Linked DNA regions of Homo sapiens: region 2 is linked to region 1. Evidence: fine-mapped expression QTL. A gene starts in region 1. The other region holds a variant in brackets. All regions are shown on one strand. Distances are between the middles of the regions. Region 1 holds the start of GSTT4 (glutathione S-transferase theta 4). Region 2 has its middle 11 kb from the start of SGSM1.

Region 1 (5,374 bases):
AAGGGGATGGAGGGGAGACATGCTTCGGAGGGGATGTCCTAGGCCTTGCTGATTGATGGCTGGTGTGGGAACCTCCGCAGAACAAGGGCTCCTTTATCATCACCAGCAGCAACCATGCCAAGGTAAAAAGGTCAGGGCATGGAGAGAGCTATCGGTTAAAAAGTGGCAGGAGAGACAGCAACTGGCTGCAAGACTCAGAACTTCTTGGCTGGGCACGGTGGCTCACGCCTGTAATCCCAGCACTCTGGGAGGCCGAGGCGGGGGGATCATGGGGTCAGGAGATCGAGACCATCCTGGTTAACACAGTGAAACCCCGTCTCTACTAAAAATACAAAAAAATTAGCCAGGCATGGTGGCGGGCACCTGTAGTCCCAGCTACTCAGGAGGCTGAGGCAGGAGAATGGCGTGAACCCGGGAGGCGGAGCTTGCAGTGAGCCAAGATAGCGCCACTGCACTCCAGCCTGGGCAACAGAGCGAGACTCCGTCTCAAAAAAAAAAAAAAAAAAAACTTCTTTGGATCCTGATCCAAACAAACTGCCAAGAAAATGTTTAGGAGATAATCATAGAGTTTTGAACAGGAGCCACATATTAGATGAAATCCAGGAATTATTGTTAATTTTATGAGGTATCTTAATGGTATCGTAGTGATGCTACGCTCTATCCTAGCCCAGGCTGGAGTGCAGTGGCGCAATCAGAGTTCACTGCAGTTCTGAACTTCCTGGCCTCAAGCGATCCTCCCGTGTCAGCCTCTGGAAGTGCTGGGATTATAGGCATGAGCCACCACACCCAGCCTGTTGCTTTTTTTTTGTTTGTTTTAAGAACTCTTATCTCTGAAAAGTATGTTCCTAAACATTTATTGATTTATTTACTTATTTATTTTTATTTTTGAGATGGGATCTCACTCTGTTGCCCACGCTGAAGTGCAACGACGCAGTCTTGGCTCACTGCATCCTCTGCCTCCTGGCTCAAGCAGTCTTTCCGCCTCAGCCTCCCGAGTAGCTGGGACTACAGGTGCAGACCACCATGCTGGCTAATTTTTGTATTTTTTGTAGAGATGGGGTTTTGCCATGTTGTCTAGGCTAGGCTGGTCTTGAACACGTGAGCTCAGGCCATCCCCTCACTTCAGCCTCTCAAAGTGCTAGAATTACAGGCATGAGCTGGCTTCTAAACATTTATGAATGGAATGATGGGGTGTCTGGGAGGCAGGGGAATAGAAATGATGTAAACTGGACCCCAAGTTGGCAAGAGTCAGAGCTGGGCGATGGATTTGTGGGGTTCCTCGTGTCCCTCATTAGTTAGTATTCACTCTCCTTTAGTGCACGTGTGAGATTTTCCATGGTCAAACAGACAAATGCTTGCACTGAACCTCCCAGGAGAAGCAGAGACAGATGGTGCAAGGGCCCCAGGGAAGACTTACCTTTCACTTAAGATAAATTTCCCATCTTTGAGGCTGGGCAGCTTCCTGAGGGGGTTGATGTCAATGTATCCTTTGCTGTGGTGGTGACCTGGGAGGGGCAGGGAAGGTCTGAGGCTGTGGGACTCCAGGGGAGAGAGAACTGAGACTCCCAGAGACCCAAACGCCTCCCTCTCTATTTTCTCAAGAAGAGGGAACTGAGGCCCGGAGGGACATTGCGTCTCACCCCAGGTCACAGGGCAAGGCAGTTGCAGAACCGGACTGCGATCAGAACTGCTGGCTCCCAGCCTGCTCCACCCTAGGTTTGGTGACTCCCGTGCCTCCTACCTGTGTCCCAGGACCAGGACGACCCTTTTACCCAGAAGCTGGAGGCCTCCAGTGCCCACCCCCAAAGCTGGATCTGAAAACACAGCCTTTGAATCACCTGAAGCCCTGAGGGCCTGGGTCCCATCCGCAATCCCATCGCTCTCACTCTGTCTCCACTTTAAGGAAGCCAGGCCCAGCACACAGCTGGACATCCAAAGGGAAGCTTCTCGGACACAATCAGGGTCATCTTAACAGGGAACCTGAGGTGGGGGCAGGAACTGAAACTCTTCCTGGACCAGCCGCCTCCAGTTGGAAACATTTCTGGGGGCTCCACTCGCAGCCCGTTCATTTCCACAGCTTCCCTGTCTCTTCCTCTGTGTTCTAGAGGCTTCTGCTTTTGCAGGCTGAGCTTTTGGAGTCCCTCTGTGCTGGGGATGGAGTTGGAGCCCACCCCTCTGACCCTCACTCAGGGTTAGTGGAGCCCTGAGCCTTTCTCAACACTGGGGAGGATGGGTGTAGACGGACTGTGCACTTCTGCCCCCTTTGCCAACCTGGTGGGCAGGTGCTGAGTTCACAAGGTCCTAGAATCCCACAAGGAAGCCAGGGTGCCTGGTGGGAGCCCAGGGAGTCCCAGCTACTGTTCCTTCCCCCTTCTCCTCGAAAAGCCTGTTCATCTGTGGCGTGGGGACTGTCATTAGTGAGCACTGACTAAGGTAGGCTGGACAAGGATGCAGCCTACAAGCCGCGTGGCATCTTTTCCTTCCCTGTGGACCTCTGGGGTGATTCCCTTGTCTCTGTCTCTGCTCCTCAGAAACGCCCCTATCAGGCTGTGCGCGGTGGCTCACGCCTGTAATCCCAGCACTCTGGAGGCTGAGGTGGGCAGATCACTTGAGGTCAGGAGTTTGAGACCAGCCTGGCCAACATGGTGAAACCCCTGTTAAAAATACAAAAAATTAGCTGGGCGTGGTGGCATGCACCTCTAATCCCAGCTACTTGGGAGGCTGAGGCAGGAGACGCACTTGAACCCAGCAGAGGTTGCAGTGAGCCGAGATAGCACCACCGTACTCCATGCTGGGCAACAGAGCGAGACTCCATCAAAAAACAAGAAAAAAAGAAAAGCCGCAATCTGTGTGTCCTGCCTCCCCCCAGGACCAGGCCTGCCAGGCAGCAGTGGGAGTTGACCTTTCAGCAGATCCACAAACTGAAAGTTGAACTGGATGTCATGCTTCTTCGAGAAGATGTAGACGGCACGGCAGGGTGCTGACAGCAGGTCCATGTAGAGCTCCAGTGCCATGTTGAGACACATGCCAGGCCCCACAGCCGCAGTTGGCCAGCCACAGACCTGGGCCTATGTCTGGCCAGAGTCCCTGGCCCTGTGCCCTCTCCGATCTGGGCCCAGGATCCTGTGTTCCCCAGGGAAACCTCTTGTTTCCCTTTGTGTTGTCATAAGGCCAGGAAGCCTGCAATTCTCACAGCATCAAGGATTCTAAGGAGGCCCAGGAGTAGGCTGGGGAGAGGCCCGTGGCAAAGGTGTGGCAGCCGTGACCCTACTCTCCCCCTTCCACGTGTGCCTGTGCCCCGTGGTGCCACCTCACAGACACCAGTCTGAGAAGGGATTATGCCTGGGAATTCCCACGGCTGGATTTTCATTGCAGAACCTGACGAAAGGGGCTTTGCAGGGTCCAGAATGAAGAGGAGGCAATGAGAATTATCCCTGGAGGATTCTAGAAGTAGAGGCTGGGAGTATCCACAGGTAAATCGAGCCTGAACTATGACTAGAAAGGAATTGGGAGAAAGAGACACAGGTGAATCGAGCCTGAACTATGACTAGAAAGGAACTGGGAGAAAGAGACACAGGAAACTGTGAGCTTTGGGAGCAATGGGGACACCACCACCAGGAAGTCAGGGGGCACTCAGCCGGTGTGTGCCACACAGAGGAGCCTAGAAACTTCCTGGCCTTGGTTGGGGCTGCAGTGGCCAGACTGTGTACCTGGTGGCCAAGGAAGGTAACTAGAGCCCCACGTAGAGGACTGAGTGCCACTCACTCTATGCTGTGATCTAATAGGTCTAGGCTGAGAAATGGGACTGACCCCACTTCTGGTGACAGAGTAAGCCTGGAGACAAGCGAAGAGCATGCAGTGTGTTTATTGCAGACAGCAGGGTGCAGTGGAGTGGGCTGCACCCACTGCACCTGCTTCTGGGCCAGCTGGGGGTCCCGCCAAGCCTCACTGTGGTTCAGAGGCTGGAGTATGAGCTTGTGGGCCTCCAGCAAGAGCTCAGTACCAAGGGCAGCCGCCACACGGGCCTGCCACACTGCCAGCCGGGGCAGTCTTGGAAGAGGTCGCAGCCAACGGCAGTGGGCTGGGAAGACAGGGCAGCTGGGGTTGGGGCTCAGCCCCATGCCCAGAGTCCCCCCAGAGGGCAGGTGGGTAGGAAAGCTTCACCTGCATCACCTCCGTCAGCACCAAGTCTTCCAGGGAGATCTGCTCCATTGCCAGGAAGGGCCTGGCCACCAGCACCCCCCAATCCAGGTGCTGCAGGGCTGGCATCAGCCTCCCCAACAGCCGCTCCAGCTGTGCAGCATCTGCAGGCTGTCCGGAGAAGTGGGGCAGGAGAGACTGGGCTGGGAGGAGAGGAGCAACTTAACCCAGACTCTTGGAAGCCTCTTGGGCCTCCTCTCCATCCCTTCCCGGCTGCCACTCATTAGTGATGTCCTCTGGGGCTCTGTGTTCAGAAGGTTTCTAAGGATTCATTCAGGCTTAGGGGAAGGAGTACTGTGATAGATTAGTTATGTCTGCTGAGGACAGTGGAAGTGAAGCTAATATGTAATATGTACCAACTGGTGCCTTCCATCTCTGGGGGTCCAGGCCCCTGCCCCAGCCTGCATGACAGGGCCTAGGAAGCTCACCTTGCACAGGTAGACATTGGTGGCAGGCAGCTGGATGGTGACATGCTTCCACGCCAAGTACTCATCCACGCAGGTGCGGGCTTGCAGCTCAGGTGGGTACCAGTGTCCCCGTATCTGGTACTTTCGACTCAGGTATAAAACGATGACCATGCTGTGGGCAGGGGGTGTCAGAGATCTTTTCTCCAGCCTGTCAGGGCCAGGTGGCTTCATTGCTCATACTCAGGGTGATTTGACCAGGTTTTCTCCCCACCTTCACCTTCAGGGGAGGACCTCCCCTATACTGCAACTCCCTCCAGGCAGTATCTCCCCACGACCAAACCACTCTGTTTCTCCATTTCCAACTCTGATCCTCCCTGGGCCCATGTTTCCACCTCCCCTCCCAGTTACCATACCATCCTGCCCTCTGTGCCCAGGCCCCACTCCCTGGCATCAGGGTCCCCACTCAGAGTGCCTGCCGTGTGGGCCCTGCCCAAAAGGTCTCCAAGTTCCCTTCCTAGTGCCCCAGAACACTAGGTGCCCATTTTCTATCCTCAGGTAAGCCCTGGGAGGTGGATACATTATTCCTCCCACTCCGTTTTACAGAGGAGAAACCTGGCACACAAAGTTCTGTGATTTCCCCAAGGGCATGGATTGAGGAAGTGGTGAGCTGGGATTGAATGTGGAGTCTCCCCTGGGTCTGCCCAGCTCCTAGGACTCTGAAAGGATGAGCTGGGGACATTTGGGGAGGAGCCAGCCTCAAGCCTGGG
Region 2 (5,374 bases), 790 kb after region 1:
CAACATCAAGTAACACAGTACAAAACAATGACTGCCTGGGGGTGCCAACACAGGAAGAGACCCTAAGAGACAGAAACAGTTGCTCTATTGAACTGCTAGATGCAGAATTGTTTTACATTCTACTGATAGAAATGAGCTTTATACAAAATACAAATTTAAAACCTAGAATAAAATGGCTGGGCGCGGTGGCTCACGCCTGTAATCCCAGCACTTTGGGAGGCCAAGCCGGGCGGATCACAAGGTCAAGAGATCAAGACCATCCTGGCTAACATGGTGAAACCCTGTCTCTACTAAAAATAAAAACAAATTAGCTGGACGTGGTGGTGAGCGCCTGTAGTCCCAGCTACTCGGGAGGCTGAGGCAGGAGAGTGGCGTGAACCTGTGAGGCGGAGCTTGCAGTCAGCCAAGATCGTGCCACTGCACTCCAGCCTGGGCGACAGAGCAAGACTCCGTCTCAAAAAAAAAAAAAAAATTGAATAAAATCATGATAAACGCTATGAAAGAAGCAAAATGCGAAGGGGAAGCCTGCAGGGACCTGGATCCTCTGAACCCCAGAAGGAAGAGATTGACGTGTGTAAGAACTGACAGGAGGGGTTCAGAACAGGGGGAAGAGTGGCGATCCACTTTACAAGGCTGTGGCAGTCGCCCAGCTAAGAGGCAGTGATATGGGCTGGCAAATGGGAGTGGGAATAGAGGAAAGTAGACAGATTCAAGGCCCAAAGCCTGGCTGAATCAATCATACTCAACGGTGGAAAATTCAACGCTCTGCCCTAAGAGCAGGAACCAAACAAGAATGCTCTCTTTCACCACTTCCATTCAACGTTGTCCTGGAAGTTTTAGGCATGCCAATCAGGCAACATTGTATCATATTAAAAAGAAGCAAAAGGCATCCAAGTTGGAAAGAAAGAAGTAAAACTATATACATTCGCATATATAGAAATACAACCTTATTTTTGTTGTTGTTGTTTTGTTTTGTTTTGAGATGGAGTCTCGCTCTGTTGCCCAGGCTGGAGTGCAGTGGTGTAATCTCAGCTCACTGCAACCTCAGCCTCCTGGGTTCAAGCAATTCTCCAGCGTCAGCCTCCAGACTAGCTGGGATTACAGGCACCCACCACCACGCCCGGCTAATTTTTGTATTTTTAGTAGAGACTATGTTGGCCAGGCTGGTCTTGAACTCCTGACCTCAGGTGATCCACCCACCTCAGCCTCCCGAAGTGCTGGGATTACAGGCATGAGCCACAGCACCCGGCCTGAAATACAACCTTAAATATAAAAAATCTTAAGGAATCCACAGCACAGGCCAGGTGCGGTGGCTCACGCCTGTAATCCCAGCACTTTGGGAGGCTGAGGCAGGCAGATCACGAGGTCAGGAGATGGAGAACATCCTGGCTCACATGGTGAAACCCGTCTCTACTAAAAATACAAAAAAATTAGCCAGGTGTGGTGGCGGGCGCCTGTAGTCCCAGCTACTTGGGAGGCTGAGGCAGGAGAATGGCGTGAACCCGGGTGGCAGAGCTTGCAGTGAGCCAAGATGGCGCCACTGCACTCCAGCCTGGGCTACAGAGCGAGACTCTGTCTCAAAAATAATAATAATAATAATAATGAAAGAAAATAATATTCATGAATTACATACGTAATAAGGGTCTAGTATCCAGAACACATAGGGAATTTGTACAACTCAATGACAAAAAGACAAACAACCCAATTAAAAAATGGGCAAAGCACTTACGTAGATGTTTCTCCAAAGAAGATACAAAAATGGCTCACAGCATATGAAAAGATGTTCAACACATTACTCATAGGGAAATGCAAACCAAAATGACAATGAGGTATCACTTCACACCCACTAGGATGACTATAATAATAATACATTTTAAAAGTTTTGGCAAAGATGTGGAAAAATTGAAATCCCCATACATTGCTGCTAGGAGTACAAAATGGTGTAGTCACTATGGGAGTGCAAAGGTTCCTAAAATGTTAAACATAAAATTATAGGCTGGGGCCAGGCGCAGTGGCTCACACCTGTAATCCCAGCACTTTGGGAGGCTGAGGTGGGCGGATCACGAGGTCAGGAGATCGAGACCATTCTGGCTAACACGATGAAACCCCATCTCTACTAAAAAATACAAAAAATTAGCCAGGTGTGGTGGCAGGCACCTGTAGTCCCAGCTACTTGGGAGGCTGAGGCAGGAGAATGGCGTGAACTGGCGAGGTGGAGCTTGCAGTGAGCCGAGATCGCGCCACTGTACTCCAGTCTGGGTGACAGAGCGAGACTCTGTCTCAAACAAACAAACAAAAAAATTACAGGCCGGGCGCGGTGGCCCACACCTGTAATCCCAGCACTTTGGGAGGCCAAGGTGGGTGGATCACCTGAGGTCAGGAGTTCGAGACCAGCCTGGTCAACATGGTGAAACCCTATCTCCACTAAAAATACAAAAATTAGCTGGGTGTGGTGGCGGGCACCTGTAATCCCGGCTACTCGGGAGGCTGAGGCATGAGAATCACTTGAAGCCAGGAAGTGAAAGTTGCAGTGAGCCGAGATCACGCCACTACACTGCAGCCTGGGCAAGAGCGAGACTCCGTCTCAATAAATAAATAAATAAATAAATAAATAAATAAATAAATAAATTTACCATATTACCCAGCAATTCTACTTCTAGTTATATACCCATGAGAATGAAAATGAAAATATTTGTAGACACAAAAACCGGTACACAAATATTCATGGCTGCACCATTCACATTAGGCAAAAGGTGGAAACTCTCCAAACGTCCATGAGCTGAGGAATGGATAAAGAAAATGTTGTCTAGGCCAGGCGCGGTGGCTCACGCCTGTAATCCCAGAACTTTAGAAGGCTGAGGCGGGCGGATCACAAGGTCAGGAGACAAGACCATCCTGGCTAATACGGTGAAACCCC[G/A]TCTCTACTAAAAATACAAAAAATTAGCCGGGCATGGTGGCAGGCACCTGCAGTCCCAGCTACTTGGGAGGCTGAGGCAGGAGAATGGCATGAACCAGAGAGATGGAGCTTTCAGTGAGCTGAGATCACACTACTGCACTCCAGCCTGGGCGACAAAGCGAGACTCTGTCTCAAAAAAAAAAAAAAAAAAAAAGAAAATGTGGTCTAGCCATACAATGGAATATTATTCAGCCATAAAAAGGAGTGAAGTACTGCCGGGCGCGGTGGCTCACGCCTGTAATCCCAGCACTTTGGGAGGCCGAGGTGGGCAGATCACGCGGTCAGGAGATTGAGACCATCCTGGCTAACACGGTGAAATGCCATCTCTACTAAAAATACAAAAAATTAGCCTGGTGTGGTGGCTGGCGGCTGTAGTCCCAGCTACTCGGGAGGCTGAGGCAGGAGAATGGTGTGAACCCGGGAGGCAGAGCTTGCAGTGAGCTGTGATTGCACCATTGCACTCCAGTCTGGGCAACAGTGCAAGACTCCGTCTCAAAAAAAAGGAGTGAAGTACTGATAAATGGTACAACATGTATGAACTTCAAAAGACATTATGCTAAGTGAAAGAAGCCAGATCCAAAAGGTTGTTTTGTATGGTTCCCCTTATATGGAAAGCCCAGACTAGGTAAACTCATAGAGACAGAAAGCAGATTAATGGCAGTCGGGGGCAACAAGAGTGACTGTTTAGTGGGTATGAGGTTTCCTTCTGGAGTAACGAAAGTATTGTGGATCTATGTAGTGGTGATAGTTGCACAATACTTGAATGTACTGAATGTCACTGATTTGTCCACTTTAAAATGCTTAAAATGGTGAATTTTATATGAATATTGCTATAATAAATTAAAAAGGGTTGCTGATGGATAGATTTGGGCTAAGAGTGTAGGAAGGAAATCAAGACTCTTCTGGTTACCTTTACGGAGTTAAGGGCTGAAGGGGCCTTAAGTGCTCACTGCACTCCGGTCATAACTGCACACTTGCCGGGCACTGTGGCTCACACCTGTAATCCCAGCACTTTGGGAAGCCGTGGCGGGTGGATCACCTGAGGTCAGGAGTTCGAGACCAGCCTGGCCAACATGGTGAAGCCCCGTCTCTACTAAAAATACAAAAATTAACCAGGCGTGGTGGTGCATGCCTGTAATCCCAGCTACTTGGGGGGCTGAGGCAGAAAAATCGCTTGAACCCTGGAGACGGAGGTTGCAGTGAGCCGAGATCGTGCCACTGCACTCCAGCCTGGCGACAGAGCGAGACTCCATCTCAAAAAAAAAAAAAAATATATATATATATATATATATATATATATATATATATATTTATATATATATATAACTGCACCCTTTCTCTTCTTTGTCTAGGCATGCTCATCCCCACCTTGGGGACTTTGTACCTGTTCTCCCTTGCATGCACCTAAAATGATCTTCCTCCAACTCTCAGCCTCGCTGCTGCCCTCTCCATTCATAACTCAGTCATGCTCTCACCTCCCCAAATAGTACCACAAGCCTGACTGGCTTCTTCCCATCTGTCACGTCTCAGGCCACGTCACCCCGTGGACACTCACTATCACACCACCCAGCTCACATGCTTTATTGATCACATTGACCACAATCTGGTATTTTGCTGATGTGATCACTTTATTATTGCCTCTCTCTTCCCCCTGGCTCAAATGTGAGCTCCATGCAGGAAACAACATCATGTGACTTATTCATACTCTGTCCCTCATGCTGGGCACATTGTGGGCTCTCAAACAAAACACTGAAAAAATGAATGAATGAATGAATGAATGAAACTCATCTGGGAGAAAGTAGAAAAAAAAATCCAGCCTTAAGTGAAAATCAAGAAGAGAAAAGTTGAGATTGTCTATTTATGGGGAGAAGCAGGGTTCCTTTACATCCTCGATTTTAGACTTGGAAATCTGTTACAGTGAAATCACTTCATTCATCAACCTGCTGCTCACCAGGGCTGCTCATCAAAAGGAGCCACCAGGCTTTCTCTAAAAATTCCCCTGGAGCCTCCCGCCTTCATTCCCTGGGTCCAGGGTTCCCATACTCTGTGAAATCACATTCACATCATTCACCTACCAGTGAGTTCTTTCCTTCACATGCTCACACAGCATCATCATCCCATCCTGTAAAATGCTCCTTGCTCCATACCTAGGAGGCCCTGAAAAAGAAATTCATAAACCTACTGTGGTGTCACTCACCACTCACCATCTACAATGTTGACTTTTTTCTGTGCTGGCTCCCACCAGGGACCCAAGCGAAGTCTGATGCTCATACATCACCAGCAAGAGCCCCATGAGAGCCAGTGCTAATGGACGAAGTTCTGGCCTGGAATACTCCCTAAACTTCCATTTCTGTGCTTTATATAGAGGTGGCCCACCCCACCTGCTCAACCACGACTGGTTAAATCTAATCAGGGTCA

Evidence for each region. PIP is the estimated chance that this variant, and not a neighbour inherited with it, causes the effect.
Region 2: its variant is fine-mapped to the expression of GSTT4 in testis (GTEx, PIP above 0.99).

What each region holds. Positions count from the first base shown.
Region 1 is chr22:24,002,343-24,007,716 of GRCh38, forward strand. It overlaps GSTT4 (glutathione S-transferase theta 4), which reads right to left and starts at 3,111. Exons shown (of 5, transcript NM_001358664.2): 1 at 2,903-3,111; 2 at 1,418-1,505. The coding sequence starts at 3,014. It overlaps LOC105372959 (a long non-coding RNA gene), which reads left to right and starts at 3,209. Exons shown (of 2, transcript XR_001755457.1): 1 at 3,209-3,250; 2 at 3,376-5,374.
Region 2 is chr22:24,792,551-24,797,924 of GRCh38, forward strand. No RefSeq gene overlaps it. Among named protein-coding and RNA genes, the nearest start is that of SGSM1, 11 kb to the right of the region's middle. The variant G/A (reference allele first, on the strand shown) is at 2,918.